Linked DNA regions of Homo sapiens. The protein of the gene in region 2 interacts with the protein of the main gene of each other region in a pairwise test. Each region holds a gene or a part of one and is shown on either strand. Other genes may lie near its edges.

Region 1 (3,818 bases), on a different chromosome or scaffold from region 2:
TTTGGCTCATGGTTCTGGAGGCTGGGAAGTCCAAAAGCATGGCGCCGGCATCTGGTGAGGGTCATCCCGTGGCAGAAAGGTGGAAGGTGGAAGCAAGCATATGAGACGCAGGAAAAAAGGGGGCTGAACTTCAAGGTAACTAACTCACCCATAATAGTGGCATTCATCCATTCATGAGGGCAGAGCCCTCATGACGTAACTACCTCAAAAAGGCCCTCCTCTCAATACCAATACATTGACAAATTTCAACATGAGTTTTAGAGATGACATTTAAACCATATCAAGGCTATAGAAGTTTGAGGTACATGTTAGAAAAGGTCTGGATTGCCTTTAAGAGACTGTTGGTAGGAGTATGGATGTTAAAGGTAATTCTGGTGAGAGGAGGGGAGAGCAATAGAGACAGCCTCTGTGGTCTTAGAGAATACAAATATCATCAAGAACAGAACGTTGCTAGAAACATGAATGTTAAAGGTGCTTTTGGGTTGGGTGTGGTGATTCACGCATGTGATCCCAGCACCTTGGGAGGCCAAGGCAGGAGCATCACTTGAGGCCAGGTGATCAAGACCAGCCTGGGCAACATAGTGAGACCCCGTCTCTACAAAAAATACAAAATAAGCTGGGTGTGGTGGTACATGCCTGTAATCCCAGCTACTCAGGAGGCTGAGGCAGGAGAATCACTTGAGCTATGATTGCGCCACTGCCCTCCAGCCTGGGTGAGAGAGCAAGACCCTGTCTCAATACATTCAAAAAATAAATAATAAAAAATAAAACATTAGCTGGGTGTGGTGGCACATGCCTGTAGTCGCAGCTACTTGGGAGACTGAGGTGAGAGGATCGCTTGAGCCCAGGAGTTTGAGCTTACAGTGCACGGGGATGATACCACTGAACTCCAGCCTGAGCAACAGAGTAAGACCTCTGTCTCTACCAAAAAAAAAAAAAAAAAAAAAAGGTGCTTTTGGTTAAGCCTCAGAGGAAAATGAGGGACATGTTATTGAGTTATTGGGCGCTGGAGGAAAGCTGATCCTTGTTATAAAGGAACTTGGCCCAGGTGTGGTGGCTCACGCCTATAATCCCAGCACTTTGCGGGGCCAAGGCGGGAGGATCACTTGAGGTCAGGAATTCGAGACCAGCCTGACCAACACGGTGAAACCCCATCTCTACTAAATATGAAAATTAGTTGGGTATGGTGGCAGGTGCCTGTAATCCCAGCTAATCAGGAGGCTGAGGTGGGAGAATCGCTTGAACCCGGGAGGCGGAGGTTGCAGTGAGCCAAGATGGCTCCACTGCACTCCAGCCTGGGTGACAGAGCAAGACTCCGTCTCAAAAAAAAAAAAAAACTTGGTTGAATTGTGTTCTAGTGTTTTGTCGAAAGGAGAATGTGTAAGTGCTGGGTGCTGAACTTGGATATTCAGCTGAGGAGATTTCCAAGCAGTGTTGAGAGCGTAGCCTGACTTCTCCTTGCTGCTTATAGTAAAATGTGAGAGACATAAGGAAGAAACTGTTGAGCACAAAGGAGCCAGAAAGCGAAGATGTGGAAAATTCTTGGCCTAATCATATTACAAAAACTGCAAAAGTGTCCCCTGGACAGAACAGCAAGGCTGTTCAAGCGTTTGCCCCAGAGCTGAGGTATGTGACTCGTGGGTCCACTCAACCCTTTCAGCAGAAATCTACAATGAAGATGGGGTTATCTAGGAAGCGTCTGTGGGAAAACTCTCTGATTTTATAGCTTGGGCCTCTATAACTTGCAAAAGAGACCAACAAGGCTCTTGAGAATCTGACACCAGCAGAAACACTGCCGGCCTGGAGTGAAGGGGGCAGAGATGAGATAAAGGGAAGGAAGGGTGGCCCCGAAGGTGGGGCTGTCTCGTTTCAGAGCATGGGTCATTCCAGCAGGCCCAGAAGAAAGAATCTCAGGCCACAGAGGATTCCCCTCAGGCCTTGAAACCAAATGAATTTTGCCCTGCTGGGCTTTGGACTTGCTTGGGACGGGTGACCTCTTTTTTCCTTCCAAGTTGCCCTTTTGCAGTGGGAGTATCTATCCTAGGCCTGCCCCACCGTCATATTCTGGCAGGAAGTAACTTGGCAGGAAGTAACTTGTTTTGTAGGTTGACAGTGGCAAGCAGCCCCCGTGGACCACCACAGCTGGTTTGGGGAGGAATAAATGGAAAACCGAAGCCCTACGGGACCGGGGGCAGGCAGGGATGTCACAAAGGGGAGGAGCAGGGAGGTGACAGGGGCCTTACCTGCAGTCACCGAGCTCTCTGGACCTGTGGATACAGAGTGGTTTCTGTTAGTGTGGAGCCTCCCGGGGCCTGCGGCAGGGCAGCCTGGCCCTCCTTACACCGCGAAGTGTAGACACAGGCAGTCAGGCTCAGGGGCCGGGGGCTAAGCCAGGCCGACCTTGGCATGCTTCCTGCTCAAGTGTAAGTCATGTTCAGATGAAAAACTCCCTACTCTAGGAACAGGGGGAAATGGAATTAGAAAAACTACTTAGATGACCTGGCCGGGCATAGTGGCTCATGCCTGTAGCACTTTGGGAGGCTGAGGCGGGTAGATTGCTTGAGCCCAGGAGTTTGAGACCAGCCTGGGCAACATGGTGAAACCCCATCTCTACTAAAAATACAATAATAATAATAATAATAATAATAATAATAATAATAATAAGAAGAAGAAGAAGAAGAAGAAGAAGCCGGGTTTGGTGGTGCGCACCTGTAGTCTCAGCTACTCGGGAGGCTGGGGCACTAGAATCGCTTGAACCCAGGAGGTAGAGGTTGCAGTGAACCGAGATTGCACCACTGCACTCCAGCCTGGGAGACAAAGTGAGACACTGTCTCAAACAAACAAACAAAAAAGTACTCAGGTGACCTATTACCAGTCAACAAGGTGGAGAGTCCCCTCTCCATCTCAGAGCCTGCAGGGAGCAACCGGGGCATCACTCCCCATGTTCAGTGGAAGCTCCCTACCCCTTACTCTGGCCCTACTGACTCCAGTTGGGCATATAATTCTAGTGATCAGGTATTGGCTTTCCTAGATGAAGCAACTGGGTGTTGGGGGAGGCTGCGCCTGATGCCAGGAGACAGACTGGGGACAGCCAAAGGTAGCCTGCCAGGGAGGAGATAGAAAACCCAAGTCAACTCCCAACCCAGAGCCTCAACCACAGGCCCAGGTGGCCACCTTGGTGGCCTCCAGAGAAGGATAAGGCGGGGTCCCACACTCACTGGTGAAGAGTTGCTGGATGCGAGGAAAGCCACTGCCAGGCCCACCCAGGAGGATGCTGACCACGATCCATGTGACACCCACACTGACGACTAGGACCACAATGCGGAGAGGGCCTGGAGGCAGGATAGACACAGGGTGGGGTCACCTCAGATACCAGCGAACCCCAGAATGACCCCATAGCCTTGCATGACTGGATCTCCCCTGCCACTTGGGAAGAAGTGGCTGGAGGACAAGGAGGTGGAGACCTGTTGCCTTCTACCAGGGCTGAAAGGGAGACTTGAGCTCCCTGGCAGGTGGAAGGAGGAAATTGAGTTCAAATCCCAAGGCTGCTGGGTTTGGTTTTCCCTGGCGGGTCTGGGAGGGGGCCTTCCAGAACTCTCTGCTCGAGAAGGGCTCCAGCCCTCTTTCCAAGAACCCCCTCAACTTCCTGCCTCTGAAACCACCAATATATTTGGGCATCCACCTGCCCCTGCTTTCCTCCTGTTCTGAGGGAGAAGGGTCCCTACTCCCTTTTAAGACCAGTCCCGGCCGGGCGCAGTGGCTCACGCCTGTAATCCCAGAACTTTAGGAGGCCGAGGCGGGTAGATCATGAGGTCAGG
Region 2 (3,818 bases):
ACCCTGTAATCGGCACAATTCCACATACTTTGCAGAGAATAACTCTTTAATACTCAAACTGACTCTCTAAGGAAGGTAGTCTTATTAGCTCTATTTTACAGACAGAAAACAAAGGCAAAGAGAGGTTAACAAACTTGCCAAAGACACAAAGTTGGAGTTAGATCCCAAGTTCATGTTCCTAAACATGACACTATACAGACCCTACTGTGCCTATAATAAGTCTTTAATAAATGTTAGCTCTCTATACACCTCACCTAAAGCTTGCTAAAGAGAATCCTTACTAACTCACTCAATCACAAAGAAGTTAATCCGGTTTATAAACTCCTCTCCATGGCATCAGAAGACAGAAGTTTTGTTGTTGGGTAGTTGCAGGAGCAGAGTCAATACCCTGTCACCAAGGCTGGCCTGGAAAACAAGCTGCAAATGTCCAGAGTGATGCTGCATGGAGGGGGATTCTGAACCAACAGCCAAGAATCCCATTTTCAAGTCCTAACTCTGCCACATGTTTTCTGTGTAACCTTGAGCATGTCACTTAACGACTCAGCTTCAATTTCTCATCTGTAAATCAAGGGGAATGAGACAGGATAAATGGAAAGGGTCTTTTCTACCCTAAAATTTCTGGATTCTATGAGCACAGGGTCTGCATATGTGTCCTTGTTAGATACCAGTGATACATTGTACCAATAGGTTATTCATAGTATTCATACTTCATACCAAGAATGAGACATTCATCACTCTAACTTTCTTGATATTCATAAGCACAAGAAAATTGTTGTGCTTTTGAAGACCTCAAAAAAAGGAATCTAAGGCTAAAGACAAATTTTTTAAGTGTCATAATTTTTTTCAAGAATTAATAGTCATTGTTGTCCATATTCAGTTGTACTGGCTTATTTCCAACAAAATTTCCCTTGCCTACATGGGGCCTGAGATGCTCTAAGCTTTCAGAAGGACAGAAATGAATAAAAGCATTTTTCCTAAAGAACAGAAGAATCATCTTAAGTGGGCATATGTGAACTATCTAGTTTCCCAATTACTGGCAAACAATTTTAATCTTGGACTGCCCTCCTTGCCATACAAGTATTGTATTACTTGGCCCCTGTATTAGTTTTCTATTTGTTGATATAACAAACTACCACAAATGTAGTGGCTTAAAACAATATAATTTTTTTATCTGACAGTTCTGTAGGTCAGAATTCCAATACCAGCTCACTAGACTAAGTTCAAGGTGTCAGCAGAGTCATGTTCCTTCCTGGAGACTCTAGGGAAGAATCTGTTTCCTTGTTTCATCCAGCTTCTAGAGGCGACCCATACACCTTGGTTCATGGACGCCTTCCTCCAACTTCACAGTTGGCAGCATAGCATCTCTCTAATGAGGGATGGTTTCAGGATGAAACTATTCCACCTCAGGTCATCAGGAATTAGAGTCTCATAAGGAGCATGCAACCTAGATCCCCAACATGTGCAGTTCACAGTAGGGTTCATGCTGCTATGAGAATCCAATGCCATGCTGGTCTGATAGGAGGCAGAGCTCAGGCAGTAATGCTTGCCTGCTGCTTACCTCATGTAGTGCAGCCAGGTTTCCAACAGACCACAGACAGGTACCAGTCCTTGGCGTGGGGGTTGGGGACTTATGAGAATCATGTTTCTATCAGTTGTTATGGCCCATTATCTGCTCACTTGTTCTCTCCATTTGCATAGATAATTGACATTTGACATTTGGTAAGATTTTCTTTAGTTTCTTTTCTGGATAAACGTATCACTTTTGTATGTTTTGTGATACTTAGGACATAATGATGTCATCCAAGCCAACAAGCCATGCTGAAGTAAATGAAACCATACCCAACCCTTACCCACCAAGCAGCTTTATGGCTCCTGGATTTCAACAGCCTCTGGGTTCAATCAACTTAGAAAACCAAGCTCAGGGTGCTCAGCGTGCTCAGCCCTACGGCATCACATCTCCGGGAATCTTTGCTAGCAGTCAACCGGGTCAAGGAAATATACAAATGATAAATCCAAGTGTGGGAACAGCAGTAATGAACTTTAAAGAAGAAGCAAAGGCACTAGGGGTAAGTCTATTTACTACCAGAATTTTAATTTCACATTTGCAAGGTCTTCTTATAAGTTATAGGAGAGTATCATCCAATTGCTAAAAAGTTCTGAACGTTATTCTGAAATTATCTCTTTTAGACAGAAATATTTAGTCTGCCTATAGACTTTCCCTTGAGTTCATTTCATTTTAGATCAAGCAAAAATATAACAAGACACAGAGGAGCCTCCCTAGCTGGAGAATTTGGTAATATTGACGTGACAGAAGCACTGTTACATCTAGCTTGATCTCATTTCTTCAAAGGACTTTTTGGACAATCTCAATCCCATCTCTGGATTAGTTACAAGTCTGGTTTTTGCATAAAGGTGAATTTACATAACAATGAACAATGATGGCTGCCCCCAGAAAAGGAAACTACAAATGGGCAGTCTGGGAAAGGCTGAGTGTGAAAGAATTGGGGGACATTCCATCTGCTATGCCTCTTTCACCAATACCCTTAGAGATGCTACAGTTTAACTGTCACCTTACTTCTACAAAGGAGACTCTGAACTGACTGCCTTGTTTCTGTAGGCATTGTAAAAACAAAAATGCCCTACTTGTAAGAAAATTCCACCTGCCTAGGTAGAATTGTTAGTCCCTTCTCCGTGCTTTCCAAATACATCATTCATCCCGCTAGCACAATTCCACCAAATTATATTAAGTCTCTCCCTGTGAATAGCTCAAAATGCTCTGCTGGAGCATTCCGTAAATGAATGCTCATTATGTGCCAGAAACTCTTCTAGCCATCTTACTATGTATTTCAAGTTGTGATGTTTTAGGGAAGTAAAAATGAGCATAAGTTCTCCTGCAGCAGCCTATTTACTAAGCTGTGGAGGTGGCCCTTCTGATCCTCCTCCTCCCAGATAGAGGAAATTCCCTGCTCCTAATAAGCCAATGGGACAAACTAACACCCCATACAGCCAGCCCCACACAGGTGCTTGGAATATCATTAAGCACAAAGGAGGTGCAATCTCTGCCCTCACAGAACTTACGCCCTAGAGGGGGAAATCAGACTGTATACATAATAAGGAAGTAAAGTACTTAGTGTGTTAGAAGGTGTCGAATGATATAGACAAAACAAAGAAGTGTAAAAGGGCTAAAAAGTACTAGGCAGTGAGGAGGCAGCAATTTCAAGGTGGTCAGAATGGGCTTTCCTTAGAACATGACATTTGAGCAAAAACCTGAAGTTAGGAGTGAGCCCTGCAGATATTAGGGAAAGAGAAAACAACCAGTGTAAAAGTCTTTAGATGAAAATGTCTTTGAGGTATTTGAAGAACCGGGAGGAGGCCAATAAAATAGAACAGAATGAGTGAGGGAGGGGGCAGTTGTCAGGAGGGCAGATGAGTGGCAGAGGCCACAGGTGGTGAGGCCTGCAGAGCAGAAGGCTTTGGCTTTGACTGGGTGGATGAGGAACCACTGAAGCATGCTGCCCGGCACCGAAGAGGCGTGTGATAAAAATACTTTAAAAGAATGTGAAGTTTTGTTTTCAAAATCTCCAGTTGGCAGAAGCTACTTCCTCTCTCTGAAGATTTGTTATTTCTATGCCATCAGCAGGCCCTGGGCATCATGACAGTGCAGGGGCCACAGGTGGCAGGACTTGGCACACCTGTACCAGTCAACTCAGACCTTAAAGTGCTTCTGTGGCCAAAAATGCAGACAAATTGTATGTCCAAATTTTTAAGTCTGTCCTATAGGCAATTTTGATCAGTAGATGGTACAGCCAGGGCTGTAG

The links.
Region 1: the proteins of MS4A12 (region 2) and FAM3A interact in a two-hybrid assay, tested with the Homo sapiens proteins (one large-scale study listed by BioGRID).

Annotation. Positions count from the first base shown.
Region 1 is NC_000023.11:154,509,605-154,513,422, forward strand, and holds part of FAM3A (protein FAM3A isoform 1 precursor), read right to left. Parts: intron 3,333-3,818; coding exon 3,219-3,332; intron 2,808-3,218; coding exon of another isoform or gene 2,710-2,807; intron 2,268-2,709; coding exon 2,244-2,267; intron 1-2,243. UniProt on the Homo sapiens protein: May act as a defensin against invading fungal microorganisms.
Region 2 is NC_000011.10:60,495,529-60,499,346, forward strand, and holds part of MS4A12 (membrane-spanning 4-domains subfamily A member 12), read left to right. Parts: intron 1-1,784; 5' UTR 1,785-1,790; coding exon 1,791-2,066; intron 2,067-3,818. UniProt on the Homo sapiens protein: May be involved in signal transduction as a component of a multimeric receptor complex.